Linked DNA regions of Homo sapiens: all the other regions are linked to region 2. The links come from fine-mapping of genetic effects on gene expression. A gene starts in region 2. Each other region holds a variant in brackets. All regions are shown on one strand. Distances are from middle to middle.

The links. PIP is the estimated chance that this variant, and not a neighbour inherited with it, causes the effect.
Region 1: its variant is fine-mapped to the expression of ZNF589 in spinal cord (GTEx, PIP above 0.99).
Region 3: its variant is fine-mapped to the expression of ZNF589 in subcutaneous fat (GTEx, PIP above 0.99).
Region 4: its variant is fine-mapped to the expression of ZNF589 in whole blood (TOPMed, PIP above 0.99).
Region 5: its variant is fine-mapped to the expression of ZNF589 in whole blood (TOPMed, PIP 0.92).
Region 6: its variant is fine-mapped to the expression of ZNF589 in whole blood (TOPMed, PIP above 0.99).

Annotation. Positions count from the first base shown.
Region 1 is chr3:47,763,801-47,767,887 of GRCh38, reverse strand. The region is part of intron 2 of SMARCC1 (SWI/SNF related BAF chromatin remodeling complex subunit C1); the gene reads left to right. Among named protein-coding and RNA genes, the nearest start is that of SMARCC1, 16 kb to the left of the region's middle. The variant G/A (reference allele first, on the strand shown) is at 1,601.
Region 2 is chr3:48,239,501-48,243,587 of GRCh38, reverse strand. ZNF589 (zinc finger protein 589) reads right to left here and starts at 2,484. Exons shown (of 4, transcript NM_016089.3): 1 at 2,374-2,484. The coding sequence starts at 2,416. RefSeq lists enhancers at 2,315-2,609, 1,800-2,717, 3,035-3,329.
Region 3 is chr3:48,652,767-48,656,853 of GRCh38, reverse strand. It overlaps CELSR3 (cadherin EGF LAG seven-pass G-type receptor 3), which reads left to right. Exons shown (of 35, transcript NM_001407.3): 2 at 1-156; 3 at 489-714; 4 at 1,003-1,118; 5 at 1,460-1,548; 6 at 1,653-1,810; 7 at 2,402-2,565; 8 at 2,851-2,976; 9 at 3,066-3,235; 10 at 3,667-3,852. Among named protein-coding and RNA genes, the nearest start is that of CELSR3, 8.1 kb to the left of the region's middle. RefSeq lists a silencer at 326-555 and an enhancer at 1-640. The variant C/T (reference allele first, on the strand shown) is at 2,046.
Region 4 is chr3:48,280,870-48,284,956 of GRCh38, reverse strand. No RefSeq gene overlaps it. Among named protein-coding and RNA genes, the nearest start is that of NME6, 18 kb to the left of the region's middle. The variant C/A (reference allele first, on the strand shown) is at 1,881.
Region 5 is chr3:48,217,797-48,221,883 of GRCh38, reverse strand. No RefSeq gene overlaps it. Among named protein-coding and RNA genes, the nearest start is that of CAMP, 3.7 kb to the left of the region's middle. The variant G/A (reference allele first, on the strand shown) is at 1,973.
Region 6 is chr3:48,331,663-48,335,749 of GRCh38, reverse strand. SPINK8 (serine peptidase inhibitor Kazal type 8 (putative)) reads left to right here and starts at 2,089. Exons shown (of 8, transcript NM_001080525.3): 1 at 2,089-2,215; 2 at 3,279-3,384. RefSeq lists a silencer at 1,544-1,744. The variant G/A (reference allele first, on the strand shown) is at 1,806.

The DNA of each region.
Region 1 (4,087 bases), 480 kb after region 2:
AAAAAAAAAGAGTTCACTGTTTTTTTGTTGTTGTTGTCGTTGTCCAGGCTGGAGTGCAATGGCGCAGTCTTGGCTCACTGCAACCTCTGCCTCCCGGGTTCAAACTATTCTCCTGCCTCAGCCTCCCGAGGACCTGGGATTACAGGCGCCCACCACCACGCCCAGCTAATTTTTGTATTTTTAGTATAGACGGGGTTTCTCCATGTTGGCCAAGCTGGTCTCGAACTCCTGAACTTGTGATCCACCCGCCTCGGCCTCCCAAGGTGCTGGGATTACAGGCGTGAGCCACCGCACCCGGCCGAGTTCACTATTTGGACTTTTTTTTTTTTTTTTTAAATCAGAGTGGAGGCTGGGTGCGGTGGCTCACACCTTGTAATCCCAGCACTTTGGGAGGCTGAAGTGGGTGGATCACCTCAGGTTGAGAGTTCGAGACCAGCCTGACCAACATGGAGAAACTCCATGTCTACTAAAAATAAAAAATTAGCCGAGTGTGGTGGTACATGCCTGTAATCCCAGCTACTCAGGAGGCCGAGGCAGGAGAATCACTTGAACCCGGGAGGTGGAGTTTATAGTGAGCCGAGATTGTGCCCATTGCACTCCAGCCTGGGCAACAAGAGCGAAACTCCATCTCAAAAAAAAAAAGAGAAAAAGGAAAAGAAAAAAATCAGAGTGGAACCTTTTTTTTTTTTTTTTTTTTTCTTTTTGGAGACAGAATCATGCTCTGTTGCCCAGGCTGGAGTGCAGTGGTGTGATCTCGGCTCACTGCAACTTCCGCCTCCTGGGTTCAGGCGATTCTCCTGCCTCAGCCTCCCAAGTAGCTGGGACAACAGGTGCCCGCCACCACGCCCGGCTAATTTTGTTTTGTATTTTAGTAGAGACAGGGTTTCACTGTGTTAGCCAGGATGGTCTTGATCTGACCTCGTGATCCGCATGCCTCGGCTTCCCAAAGTGCTGGGATTACAGGCGTGAGCCACCATGCCCAGCTAGAGTGGAACTTTATATAGTAACTTCCCAAGTCATGCTGGATGTCGGACAGCTGGCTCTTGTTCTATCAAATGCTGAGAGATTTAGAAAGAACCAAGCATTTCATAAGGCTAAGGCTAAAGGTATATTGCATTACCAAACACATGATTTGAAACAAAAAAAATTGCTAAGAAGATGTGGGTATAAAACAAAAAAGAAAAATATATTTTACCTTCACTACAAGTAAAGTTTCTAATTTTCCCACAAGCCCTCCAAGGCTTTAGTACGTGTGCATACATAATGTAAACATAATTGTAATAATAGGATAGAGCTGTTTTTCTTTTTTTGAGACAGGGTCTCTCTCACTCTGTCACTCAGGCTGGAGTGCAGTGGCATGATCTCAACTCACTGCATATTCGACCATGACTTTCCAGACTCAGGTAGATCCTCCCACCTCACCCTCCTGAGTAGTTGGGACAAGCATGCACCACTACACCCTGCTAATTTTTGTTTTTTTTTTTTGTAGAGACAGGGTTTTGCCCTGTTGCCCAGACTGTTCTCGAACTCCTGGGCTCAGGCAGTCTTTCCGCCTTGGCCCCCCAAAGTCCTGGGTTTACAGACATGAGCCACAGTGCCC[G/A]GCCTAGAGCTGTTTTTTTATTCTGCATTTTAAAATGGATTATAAGCATCTGTGTTTAAAAAAACAGGAAAGCTCTGAGAGTAAGAAATATAGAAGGTTAAGTGAGAGTCTCAAGTAACTGGATTTTAATTGTGTTTGGGAGATATCCAAGATTTTGTTTTCTTTTTTACGTGACACAGCTCCAGGAGATCTTGAGAACATGTACCCTTATGCCCAAAATTGTAAACCTGTCATTGCACTTAAAAAAATCATTTAGGCTGGGGGCAGTGGCTCACGCCTGTAATCCCAGCACTTTGGGAGGCTGAGGTAGGTGGATCACCTGAGGTCAGGAGTTCGAAACCAGCCTGGCCAACATGGTGAAACCCTGTCTCTACTACAAATACAAAAATTACCCGGGTGTGGTGGCAGGCGCCTGTAATCCCAGCTGCTCGGGAGGCTGAGGCAGGAGAACTGCTAGCCCCCAGGAGGCGGAGGTTGCAGTGAGCCAAGATCATGCCACTGTACTCCAGCCTGGGCGACAGAGTGAGACTCCATCTCAAAAAAAAAAAAAAATTAATTTGCAACTGGAGGAAAAATGTAGAATATTATATTCCTGAACTGATTTCACTCTGCTGTTGTATGAATTTCAGAATGGAGAGACTATCTTTGGGAACATGGGACTAGGAAGGAGACCGTAAGTGTTGTATATATATTTGAAGTGAGCATTTGAGTTTGTAGCTTAGAACTCTGTCTGATGAAAGTGGAATATGAGCACCTGTTTAAGCAAAATAGTGTAGGAAATTTACTTGTGGAATAATGGTTTAGTTTCTTTCTTTTTTTTTTTAAACAACTTCCTATTGTAAAATATATAGAAAGTGAGTAAAATAAATTTTGACTTAAATAATTATAAAGAGAACATCCATTTAACCACAGTCCAGGTCAGAAATTGCTAACAACCCTAACAAACGTATGTGTTCCTTCCCCAACCATAAACTCCTCTTTTTCCCCACAGATAATCTTTTCCTTGCCGTTTTTTTTTTTGTATGTTTTTGTTTTTGAGACAGAGTTTCTCTCTTGTTGCTCAGGCTGGCGTGCAATGGCACGATCTCGGCTTACTGCAACCTCTGCCTCCCGAGTTCAAGCGGTTCTCTTGCTTCAGCCTCCTGACTAGCTGGGATTACAGGCATGCGCCACCACGCCCGGCTAATTTTGCATTTTTGGTAGAGACAGGGTTTCTCCATGTTGTTCAGGCTGGTCTTGAACTCCCGACCTCAGGTGGTCTGCCTGCCTCAGCCTCCCAAAGTGCTGGGATTACAGGCGTGAGCCACCGCGCCTGGCCTCCTTGCTTTTCTTTATAGGTATCACTGTGTTAGTGTGCATCCCTGAATAATATAGTATTATGTTTTGCTTGTTTTTGAATTTTGTACTAATGAACTCATAGATATTCTTGTAACTTGGGGGCCATGTAGGAAATAATTTGCCAACATGGAGAAAACAAATAGTCTAACTGAACTGCTCAGCCACATACGTGTGGATAAAACAAATTACTGTAGAAGAATAGTTAAATCTGAAAAATCTAGTTAGCTAGCTTCTGGCCTTTATAATTCATGTGCAAGGGCAGTGAGCCTACATGATGTAGCATGACCAGTTAGATAGAGCTCAGTAGGCTGCAGAATATGGGCTGCTGTGCTGGAGACATGGACTAGTATTCCAGGCAGAGGGCATGCTGGACCAGGTGGTGGGCAAGGCTCTGGAAAGCTATATGATCAACTTCAGTGCAGGTTTGTACTCCGTACCATGTGGATTCGTAGGTAGAAACCTGAGTTCACTGACATTGTACTTATTTATTTGATTGATGTTTCATTTATTTATTTTTTCTATATTTTTACTTTTTTCATCTTTCTCTCTCTCCCTGTAATGTGTCCTACAGCTTTGCTGAAGTATGGCCAATGTACAGTGAACAGTACATATTTAGCTGGGCACACTGGCTCATGCCTGTAATCCAGACTACTTGGGAGACTGAAGTAGGAGGGTCACATGAGGCAAGGAGTTTGAGACCAGCTTGAGCAACATATTGAGACCCTATTTATCAGAAAAACTAAAAATTAGTCGTGCATGGTGGTGTGTGATTGTGGTCCCAACTACTTGGGAGCTGACCCAGGAGGATCACTTGATCCCAGGAGTTAGAGGCTGCCATGAGTTACAGTAGTACTACTGCTGCACTCTAGCCTGAGTGATAGAGCGAAATCCCATCAATATCTCTTTCTCTTTTTTTTTTCCTAAAGAGAAAGGCTGGGTGCAGTGGTTCATGCTTATAATCTTAGCATTTTGGGTGGCTGAGGCTAGAGGAGTCCTTGAGCCCAGGAGTTTGAGACCAGCCTGGACAACATGGTGAGAGCCGTCTACAAAAAATAAAAAAAAATTAGCTTGGTGTGGTGGTGCATGCCTGTGGTCCCAGCTACTTTGGGAGGCTGAGGTAGGAGGATCTCTTGAGCCCAGGAGGTTGAG
Region 2 (4,087 bases):
TACCCGCCTCAGCCTCCCAAAGTGCTGTGATTACAAACGTGAGTCACCGCGCCCGGTCCATTGTCTTTACTTTCTTTAGCTTTGCTATCCAATTGAACTGGTCTTGGCACAGTAGGCAGAGACAAAGCCCACCACCCTCAAAGAGTGGATGGAAGGAGGCACAAGGGCTCCCACACAGGACAAACAGCTACATGCTGAACAATGGCTTGGCAAACTACACACAAGCCAAATCCAGCCTGCCACCTGTTGTTATACCACCCAAAGGCTAAGAATAGTCTTTACTTCAGAAAAAAAAAATTTTAACACAAAGATGAAGTCTCACTATGTTGCCCAGGCTGGTCTCAAACTTCTGGGCTCAAGTGATCCTAGCCTCAGCCTTCCAAAGTGCTGGGATTACAGGCGTGAGCCACCATGCTGGGCCAGTTTTTACATTTTTAATTGGCTGAAAAAAAAATCAGAAACAGAATATTTCATAATAATGAAAATTATATATGAAATTCAAATTTCCTTTTTTTTTTTTAGAGTCTCATTCTGTTACCCAAGCTGGAGTGCAGTCATGCGATCTCGGCTCACTGAAACCTCTGCCTCCAAGGTTCAAGCAATTCTTGCGCCTCAGCCTCAGAGTAGCTGGGATTACAGGTGTACGGCACCACACCCAGCTTATTTTATTTTATTTTATTTTTAAAGTAGAGATGGGGTGTTGCCATGTTGACCAGGCTGGTCTTGAACTCCTGGGCTCAAGAGATCCTCCTGCCTTGGCCTCCCAAAGTGCTGGGATTACAGGCGTGAGCCACTGCACTCAGCCAAAATTCAAATTTCAATGTCTATAAAGAAAGTTTTATTGGAACACGGCAATGCTCATTCGTTTACCTATGGTCTTTGGCTGCTTTCACACAACAGCAGACCACTAGTCGTAACAAAGACCGTGTGGCCTACAAAGCCTGAAACATTTACCACCTGGCCCTTAAAAGAAAACGTTTGCAAGACCAGGTGCAGTGGCTCACGCCTATAATCCTAGCACTTTGGGAGACCGAGGCGGGAGGATCCCTTGAGCCCAGGAGTTGGAGACCAGCCTGGGCAACATAGGGAGACCCTGTTTCTAAAAAAACCAAACAGAAAAAAATTTGCCCAGCCCTGTTCTAGACTGTTCCTGTTGTTACATCCAAAGTCATTTGGGGCCGGGTGTGGTAGCTCCCACCTGTAATCCCAACACTTTGGGAGGCCGAGGCAGGTGGATCATCTGGGGTCAGGAGTTCAAGACCGGCCTGGCCAACATGATGAAACCCCGCCTCTACTAAAAATACAAAAAAATAGCCGGGCGTGGTGGCGTGTCCCTGTAATTCCAGCCGCTTGGTAGGCTGAGGCAGGAGAATCGCTGGAACCTGGGAGAAAGAGGTTGCAGTGAGCAGAGATCGCCCACTGCACTCCAGCCTGGGCTACAGAGCAAGACTCTGTCTCCAAAAAAAAAGTCTTTTGGGCCGGGTGGGGTGGCTAACACCTGTAATCCCAACATTGTGGGAGGCCAAGGTGGGTGGATTGCTTGAGGCCAGGAGTTCGAGACCAGCCTGGCAAATATGGCGAAATCCCCTCTCTACTAAAAATACAACAGCCGGGGTGGTGAGGCGCCGCCTGTAATCCCAGCTACTCCGGAAGCTGAGGCACGAGAATCACTTGAGCCTGGGAAAGCGGAGGCTGCAGTGAGCCTAGATCCCGCCACTGCACTCCGGACCGACTCAAAAAATATAAAAATATAATATACTCCGGGCGCGGTGGCTCACGCCTGTAATCCCAGCACTTTGGGAGGCCGAGGTGGGCGGATCACGAGGTCTGGAGTTCAAAACCAGCCTGGCCAACATGGTGAAATCCCCGTCTCTACTAAAAATACAAAAATTAGCCAGGCGTGGTGGAGGGCGCCTGTAATCCCAGCTGCTCGGCAGGCTGAGGCAGAGAACTGCTTGAACCCGGGAGACGGAGATTGCAGTGAACGGAGATCGCGCCACTGCACTCCAGCCTGGGCGACAGAGCGAGACTCCGTCTCAAAATAAATATGATATAATATAATAATACAAAATGCTGTTCTTCAGTTGCACTCCACACATCTCAAATGCTCAGCAGCCATTTATGGCCAATGACTGCCGGAGTGCACAAGTGCAGGATGCCCGGTGAAGAGTCGTGGAGTGAGCACCGTGGAGACTGTACGGGACACCTAGGGAGGAACCTGGCCCCCCAGGGGAGTAAGAGCCGCTGTAGGGGTAGTCAGCGCCTCACACAGCTCGCACCCCACGCGCATCCCTGGTGGATACGGCCGACGCCTGCGCGGCGCCTGCGGCTGGAGCACCGAATGGGGGAGGCGATCTCGCGGCCCCGACTCACCTTCCGCAGTCCAGCCCAGTAGCTGCTCCCGCGGGGCCCACATCTGCGCGCGCACGCACGCACGAAGCAAACGAGGTAGCAGCACCGTGTGTGAAACGGATTAGAATGCGCACCGCGGGCCACTGGCGGCGCCAGAAGAAAGAAGCAGGACTGGGTGAAGTGCGTCACCGCGCGGCGCGCAGCCTGCCGGGAAGCGTAGTTCTCGGGGCGAAATGCGGCTTGTGCAGGGCGAGAGAAAATGCTGAGGCGCACTTTGACCTTCTAGGTCCCCCTCGGCCGCAATATTTGGGGTTGTGCTTACCACAGGTACCCATAAGCAAAATATAGTGTTGTTTTCCATGGTTGTAAACATTATATAAATACACTTACAATGCCTGCTACTAGCTCTTTTGCGCAGTTCTATAATGACACGTGTTGACCTGTTCATTGTGTGTTCACTGCTGTGTGGTATCTAATGTAGAAATACACCAGGACTCCAATTGGACAGACTCATGCGCATCCATGGAGAGCTTCTCAAGGACAGTGGTTCGCAAACTTGTTGTTGTTAAAATCCTTTTACACTCTTAAAAATTACTGAGGACCCCAAAGAGCTTTTGAAACCGCCTTTGCAAAATTATACCTAAGGAAATTATGATGTTATAGGAGTTATTAAGAAATTATTTTAAGCAGATAGAGAAGGAAAGGGGTCCTTGGGAAGTTTTTGTTTCTTTTAAAGCAGCTCCAGAAAGGTTTCTTGTCTAGCAGGAAAGCCTGGGCTCCTAGAGCAGGATGGCAAGCTTTGATATGGAAATACAGGCCATTAGAAACTGGACGCACCCAAACATGGCGATTCCCGCCGTCCTTTTCTTTGCCCTGACATGTGCCTGGCAACATGGCCACCCCCCACATATTCCCACGTGTGTAGAACTTCATGGAGCCCTACATTTGCATATTAAAAAGCTAGGGTGGGAGGGCCAGGTTTTTGGCTGCCACATAAATGACACATCTGATCAAACTAATCCCCTGAGCCCTATGGAAACCAGACACCGCCTCCTCCAGCATCCTCAGATAAGCAGCCACTTTTCCGCACACGGCGCTTTCTCTTTGTTGGAATCCCCGCTCCCTCTGTCTCTGTATGGGGGAGCTGTTTTCGTCTTCCTTCCTTCTTTCTTGCCTATTAAACTTTTCGCTCCTTAAAACCACTCCACGTGTGTCTGTGTTATTAAGCCTATCAGAGACCAAGGACCCTGGTGTTCCTCCAGTCATCAGAGCCTTATCAATGACAGTAAAAGATATCAGATCTAACCCACCTCATCTTCCTTTCAACCTCTAAACTGTCTTTGTCCACTTCTGGGCATAGGCCAAAGTAGCCTTGGGAAGGAATTCAGTTTATAGCTTAAATAATAGCCCTTCCCAAGGGCTAAACTGTTCTTGTAAAATGAATGAAAGGCCACCAGCCACCAAATTAGGATGAGAAGGGCTGGAATTCTAAATATTACCAGCCATTATTCCAGAGGCCCTAAGACGCACAACTTCCCCAATTACTCTTTTGAAGCACAACTTCCCCAATTACTCTTTTTTTTTTTTTAGGGAAAAGAACACGGAGTCTCACTCTGTCTACCATGCTGGAGTGCAGTGGTGCCATCTCGGCTCACTGCAACCTCCCTCTCCTGGGTTCAAGCGATTCTCCTGCCTCAACCTCCTGAGTAGCCGGGATTACAAGCACGCACCACCA
Region 3 (4,087 bases), 410 kb before region 2:
CCATCGCTGGCCTGCGCTGCCGCTGCCCGCCCGGATTCACGGGAGACTTTTGCGAGACCGAGCTCGACCTCTGCTACTCCAACCCATGTCGCAACGGCGGAGCCTGCGCGCGGCGCGAGGGAGGCTACACGTGCGTCTGCCGCCCGCGCTTCACCGGTGAGCAGGGCGCCGGGCCAGAGCTGGGGGAAGCACGGGCCAAGGCTGGGGGCGGGACCACAATGCGAGTGAGTACTGGGAGTCACTTCTGAGGCCACGGCCTGGTATGGACGCGCTTAGGCCAGAAGCCGTAGAGCGTGGCCGGAAGGGGCCGCCGCCGAGGCAGCGATGAGACTGGGGAGGGGGCGGGGCCAGACGGAAGGGGCGTGTCCACCGAAGAGGGCGACCTTTCGGGGGTCTTGGCACCCGGCCTCTGGGCGCGCGGTCTTTGAAGGGGCCGGAGCAGGGGCGGGCGTGGGCGTGACCGCCTCTGACCGCGGCTTGGCCCCCAGGAGAGGACTGCGAGCTGGACACCGAGGCCGGCCGCTGCGTGCCGGGCGTCTGCCGCAACGGGGGCACCTGCACCGACGCGCCCAACGGCGGCTTTCGCTGCCAGTGCCCGGCAGGCGGCGCCTTCGAGGGCCCGCGCTGCGAGGTGGCTGCGCGCTCCTTCCCGCCCAGTTCGTTCGTCATGTTTCGCGGCCTGCGGCAGCGATTCCACCTTACGCTGTCCCTCTCGTAGGTGCCCGCCCCGTGTCTGAGCGCCTCCCCGCCGCCCCCACCTACCCGCCCTGACTCAGATTCCTGACTGCCCCGTCCTGGCATCCCCATGAGACACCGCCCCTCCCCTGACGCCCCGCCCGGGGTCTCCTGACCTCGCTGCACCCGCGTCCCCCCGGTCGGTCCCGCCGTCCCTCGTCGCTTCCTCTCTCGCCCCAGCCCCTTCTCCTCGCAGGGATGGTGGGTGTGAAGTGGTACCCTGCTCCTGACGCTCCCACCCCCGCAACCCCCTCCCACCCCGCCCAGGTTCGCGACAGTGCAGCAGAGCGGGCTGCTCTTCTACAACGGGCGCCTGAACGAGAAGCACGACTTCCTGGCCCTGGAACTCGTGGCTGGCCAAGTGCGGCTCACATATTCCACGGGTGGGTGCCCCGGATGTGACGGCGAAAGGGTGCGTGTGTGCTGGAGGACGCAGGGCCCAAGTCCCCTCAGGTTTGCTTCACTGTGCACCTGAGCACACACTCCACGCCATGCAAGCCCTGAAGACCTAGCTCCTTGGCCATTCCCTGTGGGAAGGTCCCTCCCTCCAAGAAGTCTGTTTCTCCTGTCTGTTCAAAGGCACTCTGAGCCAGCCATTGTGGTCACCAGTGGGGGGACTGATCTGATGCATCCAGGGTGGCCCTGGGAATGGTTGTGCTTATATGACGGGTGGGATGGGGCGACTCCGCTGCTCCTGATGATTCCACATGCATCTCCCCTCCAGGTGAATCCAACACCGTGGTCAGCCCCACAGTTCCAGGGGGCTTGAGTGACGGGCAATGGCATACAGTGCATCTGAGATACTACAACAAGGTGGGGGCCATCCCTGGCATCGGGTATGAGGGGAGTTGGGATGCTGACTTCTGCTCCTCAGGGGTTACTGGGGGCACTGTTGACTGGTGTGCCTGCGTCTTCAGCCCCGGACAGATGCCCTAGGGGGTGCACAGGGCCCCTCCAAGGACAAGGTGGCTGTGCTAAGCGTGGATGATTGTGATGTGGCCGTGGCTCTGCAGTTTGGTGCTGAGATTGGCAACTACTCATGCGCGGCTGCTGGTGTGCAAACAAGCTCCAAGAAGTGAGGCCCCTGCCCCCTAGTCCCCTTGTCCCCTGCCTACCAAAGCCCACTCCAACCCTTCACATCCCATTCCTCATCCCATCCTGCCAAACTCTCCCATCTTTCCCCCAAACCACCAAGATTCCCCTCTCCTCTCAAAGACCCTGAAAGCCTACTCACCCTAGCCCCCAATCCTGTATTCCACCCCATACTCCCTCCTCCCACACACAGTCCCCAGGCAGTCCTCCAAAGCCTC[C/T]ACCTCCCCACCCCAGTCTCACTAATGTCCCACATCCCCTCCGAGTCCCTTCATCTCATGTCCAGTCCCCCAGAGTCTTCACGTCTCCATCCCCTCCCCAGCCAGCCAGATGCCTCATTCTTTCATCATAGCTCTCAACCCCCATTCACCTACCTTTCCCCAGACCATCGGCCCATCACGGGTGCCCCTTTGCACCCCAACTGAAGTAAGATCCTAACTCCTTCCACAGCTCGGCCTTATTTTCCTCCCTCAATCACCCTACCCTCTGGGTCCTACCCCCCTGCTTCCTGTGGCCCCCCAGGAGCAACTCTACTCTGGCCCCAGTCCCACCAATGACCCAGACCCCTGATCCCCAGGTCCCTGGACCTGACGGGCCCTCTTCTTCTGGGAGGTGTCCCCAACCTCCCCGAGAACTTCCCCGTATCCCATAAGGACTTCATCGGCTGTATGCGGGACCTGCACATTGATGGCCGCCGAGTGGACATGGCGGCTTTTGTCGCAAATAATGGCACCATGGCAGGTAGGCCTGAAGCTTCCACCAGCCTAGCCCATGGCCCTGTCCCCATCATAGGGAGGAAGTGGAGGACTCCATACCTGACTTCAAGCCAGTCTCCTTTGGTGGCAAGCACCATGCTACAGCCCAGATTTTAGGGCCTGACTCTTACCAACCCCACTCATCGAAAGAAAATGGGAAATGGGGCTGAGATCTTGGTCTCTTTCAGCCCCTCTGGACACTAAAGTCCTGTCCAGCACTTGTGCCCCCCAACCCTTGTTCTCATGTCCGCCATGTGCTTTCCTCTCCCAGGCTGCCAAGCCAAGCTACACTTTTGTGACTCAGGCCCCTGCAAGAACAGTGGCTTCTGCTCGGAGCGCTGGGGCAGCTTCAGCTGCGACTGCCCTGTGGGCTTCGGCGGCAAAGACTGTCAGCTTAGTAAGTGGGCAGCATGGGGCAGAGGGGCCTGCAGGGTCAGATCTGTTCCTGGGGCAGGGGCTGTAACCCTGTTTCTCTTATCCACTCAGCTATGGCCCATCCCCACCATTTCCGTGGCAACGGCACACTGAGCTGGAACTTTGGAAGTGACATGGCTGTGTCTGTGCCATGGTACCTGGGGCTGGCATTTCGGACACGGGCAACGCAGGGGGTCCTGATGCAAGTGCAGGCTGGGCCACACAGCACGCTCCTTTGCCAGGTGTGTCCACCCTGCTCACCCCTATACCCTCAGTTCTCAGTCTCTTAGGCCGCCACTGACATTCTTGTGGGTTCAGGTTGGTCACACAGCATACTTTTCTGCCAGGTGTCCCAACCACACTTGACCCTGCTCTGGACCCTAGCCCTTGATTCTCTTTCCATCATTATATCCTCTGCAGGTGCAGGGCTCCAGCATAGCTCTCTCTTATGCAAGCTGCACCAACCCACCCACAACACCTGGTCCTATCCTCTGCCCCCTGACCCCATATCAGCAACATGATGTCCCCTGGCACAGTGCCCTTTGTGCCAGGTATAACCTTGACCCCACTGTTCTGACCTCTGATATTCCTGACCTCTGAGCCCTCTGATCTCACCTCCAAGTCCCAGCCCACATGGGGCTCTAACCCCAGGGCTATGCATCTCTGCCCACAGCTAGATCGGGGGTTACTGTCTGTGACAGTGACCAGGGGCTCGGGCCGTGCTTCCCATCTCCTTCTGGACCAGGTGACTGTCAGTGATGGCCGGTGGCACGATCTGCGGCTGGAGTTGCAGGAGGAACCAGGTGGCCGGCGGGGCCACCATGTCCTTATGGTCTCACTGGACTTTAGCCTCTTCCAGGTCTGGCCTCTGACCCCGGGGTAGTCTGTTCTCAGCCTTCCAACCAGATCCGCCTTATTTGACCCCACCTCTAGTCCAGCTCCTCTCAGTTCCCTCCACTGCACTGAGTCTGATGTTCTACCCCTAGTTCCCCACCATATATCCTTGCACTGAGCCCACCCACCAGCCAAGTTGGTCCACTCTCAAGCCCTCTTTGTGCCAGATTTGGGGCCTGGTCTTGGGGAACCTCTGTAGC
Region 4 (4,087 bases), 41 kb before region 2:
TTTTAGGTTTCCTATAGGTTTGCCTGTCCCTACAAAGGTAATACAGATGCTCCTCAGCTTAACAATGAGGTTACATCCGGATAAACCCATCTTAAATTGAAAATACTATAAGACAAAAATGCATTTAATACACCTAAACTACTGGACATCATAGCTTAGCCTCGCCTACCTAAACGTGCTTAGAACACTTACATTAGGCCAGGCACGGTGGCTCATGCCTATAATCCCAGCACTTTGGGAGGCTGAGATGGGCAGATCACTTGAGGCCAGGAGTTCGAGACCAGCCTGGGCAACATGGTGAAACCCTGTCTCTACCAAAAATATATATATAAGCTGGGTGTGGTGGCACGTTCCTGTAGTCCCAGCTACTTGGGAGGCTGAGGTGGGAGGATTGCTTCAGCCCTGGAGAAGGTTGCAGTGAGCCAAGATTGCACCACTGCACTCCAGCCTGAGTGACAGAGTGAGACACTGCCACAAAAGCAAACAAACAAACAAAATACTAGTCTATGGTTGGGCAAAATTATCGGGCAGCACAGTGAACTGTAGCGTCCATCGTTTACCCTTGTAACGTGTGGCTGCCTGGGAGCTATGGCTCACTGCCACTGCCCAGCATCATGAGAGTATCACATTGCATATTGCTAGCCTGGGAAAAGATCAAAATTCAAAATTCTAAGTACAGTTTCTACTGAGTACTATAATTTTCATACCATCATAAAGTTGAAAAATGGAAGTCAAACCACTGTAAGTGGGGGACTTTCTGTGCTATGGATGACTGGGTGGTAACCGGGTCTCTGGCAGTGCAACCACAGTTGAGTGGCTTTTTTCTCTCTCAAAATAACATCTCTTCCCAGATACTAGACATGTTTTTCCTAAATAGTCTCAATCTGGGACGTTCGTATCTTATCCATGGCTCTGACCCCCAACTCTTTCCCATCTTTGGATGTTCCAGGTGGGGTTTCCCTACAAATTTCCAATGTAAAGAAACCTCACCCACAAATTTTAGATGATCCTGTAAGTGAAAAATGGCAAGAAAATGGAGAACTTGGATTTAAGGAAACAAAGACAATGAGTATAGACTGTTAAGTTTAATTATGACTTAAGGAGAAATATGTCAAGTTTAGGGAAATTTGGCAACTTATGGACATTTTGAAGGACTGGTAAAATACAAATTGATTTATAGGCTCTAGTTCTTTGCCAAAAGAGAGGAACAGAGGATACAGGAGAGTAAGAAGACAACTGAGATTATGAGTTCCCACAGAATATAAATTTGAAAGGGAACCCTCCCAACACAAATTATAATTCAGGTGAGAGCTCTTCCTCTGGTTTAGTGGTCCCAGGAGTCACAGGCTTACACTTGTCTCAATAGCTCTTGTGTCTATGTGATATGGTTTGGCTGTGTCCCCACCCAAATCTCATCTTGAATTGTAGCTCCCATAATTCCTACATGTTGTGGGAGGGACCTGGTGGGAGGTAATTGAATCTTGGGTTGGGTCTTTCCTGTGCTATTCTTGTGACAGTAAGTAAGTCTCATAAGACCTGATGGTTTTATAAACGGAATTTCCCCTATGCAAGCTCTCTTGCCTGCCACCATGTAAGACATGACTTTGCTCCTCATTTGCCTTCAGCCATGATTGTGAGGCCTCCCCAGCCATGTGAACTGTGAGTCAATTCAACTTCTTTTCTTTATAAATTGCCCAGTCTCAGGTATGCTTTACTAGCAGCATGAGAACAGACTAATACACTACGCTTCAAGGCCTCCCAAAAGCAGAGCATGAGATGGCGACTTGTGTGCAAGTAGTTTATTTTAGGAAGGGGTCTCAGAAAACAGGCATCAGGACACTAAGAGAGTAAAAGAAAGGAGAAGGGAAGGCCATCCCAAG[C/A]ATAGGGTATTGAGCTGGTTACCACTGTGGACAATGGGCTTCAATCTAGTTGGTGGTCCTCTGTCTCCCACCAAAGCCTAGGAGGCTGGTTGTTTGTCCAATGGTTTCATCATCCGTTGTCAGTGATTTGCCAGGGAGACCTAACCCATTTGCAGTCCCAGACTTGCATATGCCAGAAAGGCTGAGGGGCTCTTGCAGGCTTCCCACACTGCATCAGCAGAGAAGCTCCTAGAAGGAGCATGAGAGAAACGGTGAGGAGGTCTTTGATTTCACCTGAGTGCAGCTACGGTCAGGGTAGGAATGTGGGCCAAGAGGACGTGAGATGGGGCATAAAAGTTGTTCAGTGCCATCCTCCCCTGCCTGTGTTTGGGTCTGCCCATGCGCCAGCTCTGCATGTAGCTCAGCATATCAGAGAGTCAGGCAAGAACCTAGTGAGCCGCGATCTCTACTTAAGACTCAATATAAGTGGATTAGTGGAAAAGATAACATTTCCCACCATTACAACTGGGCCTGAAGCCATAATTGATTCTTATTACCTCCCTCCTTTATCAACCATATTATAGTTCCTGCCCCCAGAGCCAACCTTTACAGGTCGAAGATGCTTACCTACTGGGAAAACAGACTTTCACTTCCAAGAGGTCAGATCCCTTAGCTGACTTACCCTGATAGAGAGCTGCGATTGCTGCAAGTGCCCACTGATGGTTATGCCTGGGTATGGAAGCATTCACAGAACCTCCTGGGTTCAGATATACTTGAGTAGCAACATCACCAATGCATGATAATCAGGGTCAATGACCTACGTAAGTATAATGGCTCCTCCCTTTTCCTGCCAGCCTACCATCGTGGGAAAGCCAGAATGACCAAGTTAGTAACAACATTAGTTTAGCAGACACTGCCTGTGCTCTTTGGTAGAAACATCTCCCCACTCTGCCCCCACTAACAAGGAATTCTAAGCTGGAAGGATCCAATGTTCCAGGGATAAGAAGTACAAATGTTTACCAGGTACTATTTCTGCAGTGCCTTATCATAGAGGTTTCCAGCTTGGAAAATGTCAATAGGCCACGTTGTAATCCTCACCTGAGAGGTCTCTGGAGATGGGTCTGGTGTAGCAGACACCTAAATCTTGCTTGTATCAGAATTCGAATTTTTTTTTTTTTTTGAGACAGAGTCTTGCTCTGTCGCCAAGGCTGGAGTGCAGTGGCATGATCTCGGCTCACTGCAACCTCTGCCTCCTGAGTAGTGATTCTCCTGCCTCAGCCTCCTGAGTAGCTGGGATTACAGGTGCCAGCCACCTCGCCTGGCTAATTTTTGTATTTTTAGTAGAGATAGGGTTTCACCATGTTGGCCAGGCTGGTCTCGAACTCCTGATCTCAGGTGATCGACCCACATCAGCCTTCCAAAGTGCTGGGATTACAGGCATGAGCCACCACACCAGGCCAGAATTAGTCAGATTTTAGGAGACCAGAGGAATTTGAAGAACCAGGCTGCCTGGGGGCAAGGAATTGAACAGAACAGCCTCTCAGACCCAGACTCCAGATGTTTCCAGAATCCCAGGCTATAGCCAAGTACCATTACTTATTAGCTGTGTGAACATGGCCAAGTTATCTACATTTGTTTTTATTTGCTCATCTATAAGATAGGCATGCTATTGTTACCAGCATCATATATTTGGTAGTCTCTCTTCTTTGCTTGGGAACAGATCAGCTGGCAGAGATGGGGTTTCACTATGTTGGCCAGGCTGGTCTCGAACTCCTGACCTCAAGTGATCCGCCCACCTTGGCCTCCCAAAGTGCTGGGATTACAGATGTGAGCCACTGTGCCCAGCCAAGTGGGGCTTTTGAGCCAATCCAGAGTCCTGTTATGGCTCCCACTGCAGACTGTATAACGGTTCACGGATGTTTTACATGCTTGTACTGAGAATGCTCATGTATGTCACAGGATTCTCCCTTTCAGGGTTTTTCACATAAAGAGATCTCAGTTCCCTTCTGGCCGGCTCAACAGAAACAATATAGACTCCCAGGAGAAGGAGAAATCACAGCTTTAATGACTTAATGACTGTCAAAGACCTGATTGGACAAGGTTAATGAGGCAGAAAGGAAAAAGCCTGGATTGGGAGCTGGGCTTCAAGGACTGGTTCATCTTCCAAAGGTAGGTTTGGTAGTGAAAAAAAAAAAAAAAATACAAGCCGTTATGCAACTACTATCTGC
Region 5 (4,087 bases), 22 kb after region 2:
TACCTTCAGGAGCCCACACACCCCCTAGGCTGGCATCAGGGCCTGTGGCCTTTTGGTTCCCACTGCCCTCACCCCAGCCCTGCACACTGCAAGTGCCAGACTGTCACGTATGCCCCCATCACATAGGCTCATCTGAGCCTCCTGCTCTTTCTCCCAGCTCTGCCCCGATCCTTCTGTTTGGCCTGCCCTTTCACCTCATGAAGCTTTCCCTGACCTCCAACCAGGCACAGCAATCTCCTCTTTGCCCCTACATCTTCCAGGAAGTCTCTCCTGATTCGACCTCAAATTACTCCCTGTTTGGTGCTCTAGCTGAGACACCAAGCTGGGATGGGTGGCTGGTGTTGGGAGAGGGAGAGATCACAGCCAGGAGAGATAAAGGGCCAAAGTGATAGAGGGGTCCAGCGTCCATGAGGCAAATTCCGGTCCCAGCTCCTCTGTGGACTGGCCATGTGGCCCTGAGGCCTGGGGTACCTCTTGACCTCAGTTGGCCTGTGGGACACTTGGGGGCTTGGACAGCAGGGCTCCTGGAAGGTGGAAGCCTGGACGAAGGCCACCGGTTGCACACCTGGCCTTGAGAGAAGGAAGAAGTGGGCTTCTGTGCAACCTGGTTTCACAGTTCAAGTGTTGCCCCAGTGGCCTGTTGGTCAAGCAGGGCTTGCACATCAGGTCTTTTATGGCTGTTGGGAAAAGGGCCATCCAGGGATATCAGACCTCTCAGGGCTCTCCTGCTTCCTCCACCCTTCTGACTGGCTTCAGGATCCCCAAGAAGCCAAACCGGGGAGAAGCAGATGGCAATGTTAGTCCTTAGGCTAGGGCGTGAGAGCTGCATGCTCCTGTGTTCCTCTAGGTCAGATCTGGCATATTCAGAGCCCCTTTCCAACTGCCTCAAGAGGACGTTCCACTTCGGCCAGTGCTGGACACGCCCTCACATGAAATCAGCCAGAGCCCAAGCAGCTTGCATAGGCCCTCTGATACAACTGCAGAAGTCTGGACTCAGGGGCACTTGCTTTCCCTCTCAGGGCCATCGCACAAGGTCCAGGCTTCCCAGGTTCCAGGAGTGAGTCCTGCCCTCGGCACATGCAGGTCGGTGTCCACTACCTGAGGTAGGGCGGCTGACTTCAGACCTTTAGAACCCATGGCTGCCCCTTCCTCCTAGAGAGGGAGAAAGGAGGCTCTCACCAGCTCGCCTTTTTCATAATGGCTCACCCCATTAATAGAGTGATCAGAAGATTCTAGGCAAGGCGGAATGAGAAAAGAAAAGTGAGGCTTAGCCGGGCGCGGTGGCTCACGCCCGTAATCCCAGCACTTTGGAAGGCCGAGGTGGCCTGATCATGAGGTCAGGAGATTGAGACCATCCTGGCTAACACAGTGAAACCCCGTCTCTAGCTGGGTGTGGTGGCATGCGCCTGTAGTCCCAGCTACTTGGGAGGCTGAGGCAGGAGAATGGTGTGAACCCAGGAGGCGGAGCTTGCAGTGAGCTGAGATGGCGCCACTGCACTCCAGCCTGGGCAAGAGTGTAAGACTCCGTCTCAAAAAAAAAAAAAAAGTTAGGCTTTTCCACATCAAGACTTGAGGGCTAGATAAATGTCCCTTCACAAAGGCCTGGGCAGCCCCTGTCCCTCTGTCTCTCTATCTCTCTCTCTTTCCTCTCTCTCTCTGAATCTCCCACCCTGACTTCTCTAAGTGGCCCCTTCCTCTCCTGCAGACCCAGGAGGCTCCAACTCCTACACAATGTGATCAGGGAACCTGGTGCACTGGGACTGCTGAAGGCTCTGAGAGACTTTCCACAGATGAGCAGATGCTGGAGCTACCCTCTCCCACTCCACAATCCCTCCCCCATTGGCGAACAAAGCCCAGCTTAGCCCCCACTCTGCGTTCCCTCTCTGGCTCCGTGTCTGCAGCCCTGGTTGTCCTGGTGGAAGCACCCACCTCCTCAGGCCTGCTTGCCCCTGAGACAGCCTTCATCAGAATG[G/A]CCAACTTGTCTGAAAAGTAGAGAACCAAGCAGGCAGTTTGTTCATCCCCTTGGGGAGCACTGGGGAGGGAGTCCTGGGATGGGAATCCCAGGAACCATATTCGTCACCAGCCTCTGTCTCTGTGGGTGAGTCACTGTCCCTGTCCCTCCCTGTGCCCAGAATCTATAGTCAGCACAGAAAGCCCAGGGCTTTGCAGGCAAAGAGCCCAGGTTCCCTCATGAGGCTGACTGGGTTCCTGGCTCAGCCCTGCTGCGACCAGCTGTGTATCTGCATACCGATGTGTCTGCTCTCCTGCCTCCTCATCTGTAGAACAGGGATGATCATCACAATGTCTAGTTTGTAGAATTGTTGTGAGGGTCAAATACAACATGGTCTGTGGCCAGTACATGTGAATTGTTTTTGTTGTTATTAATGTGACCTGTTAGGTTAATGCTTCAGAAGTAAACATAGTGTGCTCCCAGAGATAGTAACTTTGTTGGCCAAGCATGGTGCTTCAGGACAGGAGTTCGAGACCAGCCTGGGCAACAGAGCGAGGCCCTGTCTCTACAAAAAAATTTTAAAATTAGCTGGGCATGGTGGTGTGCACCTGTGGTCCCAGCTACTTGGGAGGCTAAGGTGGGAGGATTGCTTGAGCCCAGAAGATGGAGGCTACCGTGAGCTGTGATCATGCCACTGTATCCAGTCAGGGCAACAGAGCAAGACCCTGACTCAAAAATAGAAAATTGGGGTGACTCAGGCCAAGAGCTAACTTCTGGTAAATTGCCTCCCTCCCTGAACCTTTCTCGTGCAAAAATTGGGACAGTAGCCCCAACCTTGTAGACAGCAATGCATTGGAGCAATGTATTGAATATATACTCAAAGGCAGACGTTTCCTTCCCTAAACCTGGGGCATGGGGCAGGGTATGCTTATACCCTGTGGCAGACAGGGAATGCCAATCACAGGTTCTGCCCAGACTCAGGACAAGTTCCTCCTTCTGCCTTTCTTTCACTTGCAGAATTGTATTGCCAAGAGACCTGGGGTGGAGGGTCTCAAGCACCGTCGATTACTAGCTGTGTGACTTCGAGCAAGTTGCCTTGTTTTCTTGATAATGTTCTCATATTTGTAGGATGGGAATGAGATGCCCTGCAGTGTTTGTTCAAATGCAACAGTGAGTAAGCAAGTGCATGTCCACTGTCAAGTCCTGTACTCCCGGGATGTTTTGGCAAGTGAGGTCAGGGTCAGGTCTCCTTACTTGGCAATGGCCTTAGCCCAACTCTTCCCCAACAAGATACATATGCACGCATGAAACTGTGCATATGTATCTTGTTGGGGAACTGTGCTCCCCTTCTTGCTAATAACATAACCTACTACCCCAGGCCCCTGTCATATTTTGGCTCAGACTCAGCCTCTCCAGGTTGTCCCCTGGATTTCAGCCCCCAGTTGGCATCCTCTGTGATGCGTCCCCCACCAACACCAGGCTAGGAGACAGCTCACCAACCCCACCTTTAGTCTCAGGCTGTGTTTATCCATCAGGCTAGTCCCAGGGGTAAGACCACAGTTGTCCTCAGACAAGAGTCATGAAGCCCTGGGATGCCCCTTAGACAAGGCTTCCCCAAGTTCTCCTTCTGTCCAGGCTCCTGATTATGGGGCTGCATCTCCTTCCCAGGCCAAGGGCTTCCCAAGTGTGACAGTCTTGTCTGTCCCTCAGACAGGGACTCCCAAGGGCAAGCCCCTGCATTCCCTTCAGCCCACAGACTCCCTAAGGTCAGGATTCCTTTCCTCACTGGGCCCCTCTCAGAATCGGCATTGGGCTCTGCCCTCAGAGGGCCCAGATGGGTAAGAGCCGCTCCCAGCAGGTCCAGACCCAAGTTCAGAAATCATTTGTCAAATGAAACACTACACAGCACGGGATAGTGATAGGCAGTTTCCAGTAAATGTGCCTTTGTTTCCTAGACTGATTCATAAGAAGGGCCTGGGACATGGTGTCCGGGGGTGGAGGCTCTGCCCAGCCATAAAGGAAAGACCTGGATATTGGATATACCACTCAGAGGAACCCGCTGTCGTCCTTTGCAGGGGAGAGGGACGGTCAAACCACAGCATGGTTTCTCCTGGGAAAGGCCAAGGCACTTGTAGG
Region 6 (4,087 bases), 92 kb before region 2:
CTGCCTGGTAACAGCTGTTGGCCCGTACAGGTATTCTCCAAAGTGGTGAGTAATATTGAACCACTTTAGCTTGCTATCCTGTCCTATCCTTCCTTAGAATCAGAGGAAATACCGGGCACCTGTCAGCCAGTTAAAAATGATTAGCATGGCCACTGGACTTAAGACTCAGCTGTGAGGCTTTCTGGGAAAAGGCTTTCTAACAACCCCCAACCCTTTGGGGTTAGGAGCGTTGGTCTGCCTGGAACCAGCTTCCGCTTTCACAATTTCCTGGGGGGAAGCCGAGGGCCGACTAGAGGCAGAAAGCTGTCGTCCTGAACTCCCGGCATTGGCTGGTTGAGATCATGGTGCAGCCAGAAGTCTCTACTCAACAGTTGCCCACGTGTGCACCCCTACCTTTCCTTCTGACCCATACCTCCTGGGTCCCGACCATGACTTTCTTGAAAGTGTAGCCCCAAAAATTCTCCTTACCTCTGAATCTACTTCCTCCAATCCCTGCCTCCTAGGTACTAATGCTTCAGACTTTCATTTCCTCTCCCAAGTATTAGAGCAAGTTGTATCTCCAAAGAGATCTAAGGAAGCTCTATGCTGTGGCCTTAGATATCTAGGCTATGAACCCAGGGAGTCTTGCCCCTGGTGTCCCTCCCAATTTAGGTATATAGCTGTCAACATGGGCTGTTATGTGGGACCCATTCCCCACCACCCTTGCCAGGGCCCCAAGTTTGTAAATAGCTAGGAAGATCGCTCTCCCATTGTGTAAGATGCTCTCCTCCCCTAATTTCTACCCAGTTTACTACCCCCTGCAATACAATCTCCAAGCCTTGGCTCCTTGGCCAGGCCCTTAGAACTGATAACCCAGTATTTTAACAACTGGAACTGAGTCTACAACAACATAATAGATCAGGATGAAAACGAATTTGAGTAAATTAAAGGGAGGCACATGTTCCTATAGTGGCAAACTGGGGCAACAAGTGAACGTCCTTCCACTGCGTTTCCAAAATCCATCTAAAAAAAGACAGACAGAGAGAGGAAGAGGCAGAAAGTCAAAGAGAGAAAGAAAGAAAAAAGGGAAAGAGAGAGGTAGTAAAGAAAAAACAGTGTACCCTATTCCTTTAAAAGCCAAGGTAAATTTAGAACCTATAATTGATAATTAAAGGTCTTCTCCACGACCCTATAATACTCCAATACTACCTTGTTGTCAGTGTAAACAAGGGCGTAGCCCGAAAACACTGAGACCACTGACAACCCATAGCCTTCCTATCAAAAATCCTGAACCCAGTAACCCGTGGATGGCCCAAATGCATTCAATCTGTAGTGGCAACTGCTTTGCTAACAGAATAAAGTAGAAAAATAACCTTTAGAGGAAACCTCATTGTGAGCACACCTCACCAGTTCAGAACAATCCTAAGACCAAAAAAAAAAAAAAAAAAAGGTAGCTTACTAGCTCAAAATTCTTAAAGTATGGGGCTATTCTGTTAGAAAAAGGTGATTTAACACCAACCACTGATAATTCCCTTAACCCAGCAGATTTCCTAACAGGGGATTTAAATCTTAATTGCCATGCAAAGGTCCAACCAGACCTAGGAGGAACTTCCTTTAGGATAGGACGATAGATGGTTCCTCCCAGGCGATTGAGGAAAAAACCACAATGGGTATTCAGTAATTGATAAGGAAACTCTTGTGGAAGCAGAGTTAGGAGAATTGCCTCATAATTGGTCTGCACAAACTGCGAGCTGTTTGCACTCAGCCAAGCCTTAAAGTACTTACAAAAAGAGCAAGCCCATCTTTTTCTCCTCGCTCTCCTTCTC[G/A]TAGGAAAAAGGCACATAGGATAAACAGGAGCCATCTCTCATATTTCGTACCCAAAAGGACTTAATCCAGGGCAACAAAATCTTAAGTTCGATAATTAAGGCATATTCCTACAAAGGAAAAGGACAAAGGCCCTAGTGGGCAAAAACTCTATCTCAATCCTGACTCAAAAGGTTACCTACACCCTCTCTGAAACGAATTTGCATAAGAACTGTTGTTTATGAAAATGCATCTTGATGGGGCAACTGGGTTGTTATGAAATACTCAGAAACCCAGCCCAGCTCTAGAACTCACTCCTGAGTGCAAAGGCAATGTCAGGCACGCTGGTAAAGGACCACTAGAATCCAGCAGCCCAGACCCCTTTCTTTGTGGTCAAGAAGGGCAGGAAAACAGGTGCAGGACTGCTACATCGGTGAGTGTAACTAATCTGATAAGCAGAGGTCCGTGGGTGGTTACGCACCCTGAAAAGGAATAAGCATTAGGACCACAGAGGACGCTCTAGGACTAATGCTCATCAGAAAATGACTAGGGGTGCTGGCATCCCTATGTTCTTTTTAAACGTTCCCCCCTCCCAGGCAAAAACGCCCCTAAGATGTATTCTAGAGAATTAGGACCAATTTGACCCTCAGATGCTAAGAAAGAAACGACTTATATTCTTCTGCAGTACCCCTGGCCACAATATCCTCTTCAAGAGGGAGAAACATGCCCTCCAAGGGAAGTATAAATTATAACACCATCTTACAGCTAGACTTCTTTTGTAGAAAATAGGGCAAATGGAGCGAAGTGCCATATGTGCAAACTTTCTTTTCATTAAGAGACAACTCACAATTATGTTAAAAGTGTGATTTATGCCCTACAGGAAGCCCTCAGAATCTACCCCCCTGCCCCGGCGTTCCCCCGGCTCCTTCCCCAACTAATAATGACCCCCCTTCAACACAAACGGTGCCAAAGGAGATAGAGAAAGGGGTAAACAATGAACCAAAGAGTGCCAATATTCCCAGATTATGCCCCCTTGAAGTGGTGGGAGGAGGAGAATTCAGCCCAGAGTGTGTGTACCTTTTTCCCTCTCAGACTTGAAGCAAATTAAAATAGACCTAGGTAAATTCTCAAATAACCCTGATGGCTATATTGATGTTTTACAAGGGTTAGGACAATCCTTTGATCTGACATGGAGAGACATAATGTTACTGCTAGATCAGATACTAACCCCAAATGAGAGAAGTGCCGCTATAACTGCAGCCCAAGAGTTTGGCAATCTCTGGTATCTCAGTCAGGTCAATGATAGGATGACAACAGAGGAAAGAGAACGATTCCCCACAGGCCAGCAGGCAGTTCCCAGTGTAGACCCTCAATGGGACGCAGAATCAGAATGTGGAGATTGGTGCCGCAGACATTTGCTAACTTGCATGCTAGAAGGACTAAGAAAAACTAGGAAGAAGCCTATGAATTATTCAATGATGCCCACTATAACACAGGGAAAGGAAGAAAATCCTACTGCCTTTCTGGAGAGACTAAGGGAGGCATTGAGGAAGCATACCTCTCTGTCATCTGGATCTATTGAAGGCCAACTAATCTTAAAGGGTAAGTTTATCACTCAGCTGCAGACATTAGAAAAAAACTTCAAAATCCGCCTTAGGCCTGGAACAAAACTTAAACTAAGAACTTGGCCTCAGTTTTTATAATAGAGATCAGAAGGAGCAGGCAGAACTGGACAAACGGGATAAAAAGAAGGCCACCGCTTTAGTCATGGCCTTCAGGCAAGTGGACTTTGGAGGCTCTGGAAAAGTGAAAGGCTGGGCAAATCGAATGCCTAATAGGGATTTGATTCCAGTGCGGTCTACAAGGACACTTTAAAAAAGATTGTCCGAATAGAAATAAGCCACCCCCTCATCCATGCCCCTTATTTCAAGGGTATCACTGGAAGGCCCACTGCCCCAGGGGATGAAGGTCCTCTGAGTCAGAAGCCACTAACCAGATGATCCAGCAGCAGGACTGAGGGTGCCTGGGGCAAGCGCCAGCCCCTGGCATCACCCTCCCCAGGTATGCTTGACCACTGAGGGCCAGGAGGTTAACTGTCTGCTGGACACTAGCGCGGCCTTCTCAGTCTTACTCTCCTGTCCCAGACAACTGTCCTCCAGATCTGTCACTATCCGAGGGGTCCTAGGACAGGCAGTCACTAGATACTTCTCCCAGACACTAAGTTGTGACTAGGGAACTTTACCATTTTCACATACCTTTCTAATTATGCCTGAAAGCCCCATTCCCTTGTTAGGGAGAGACATTC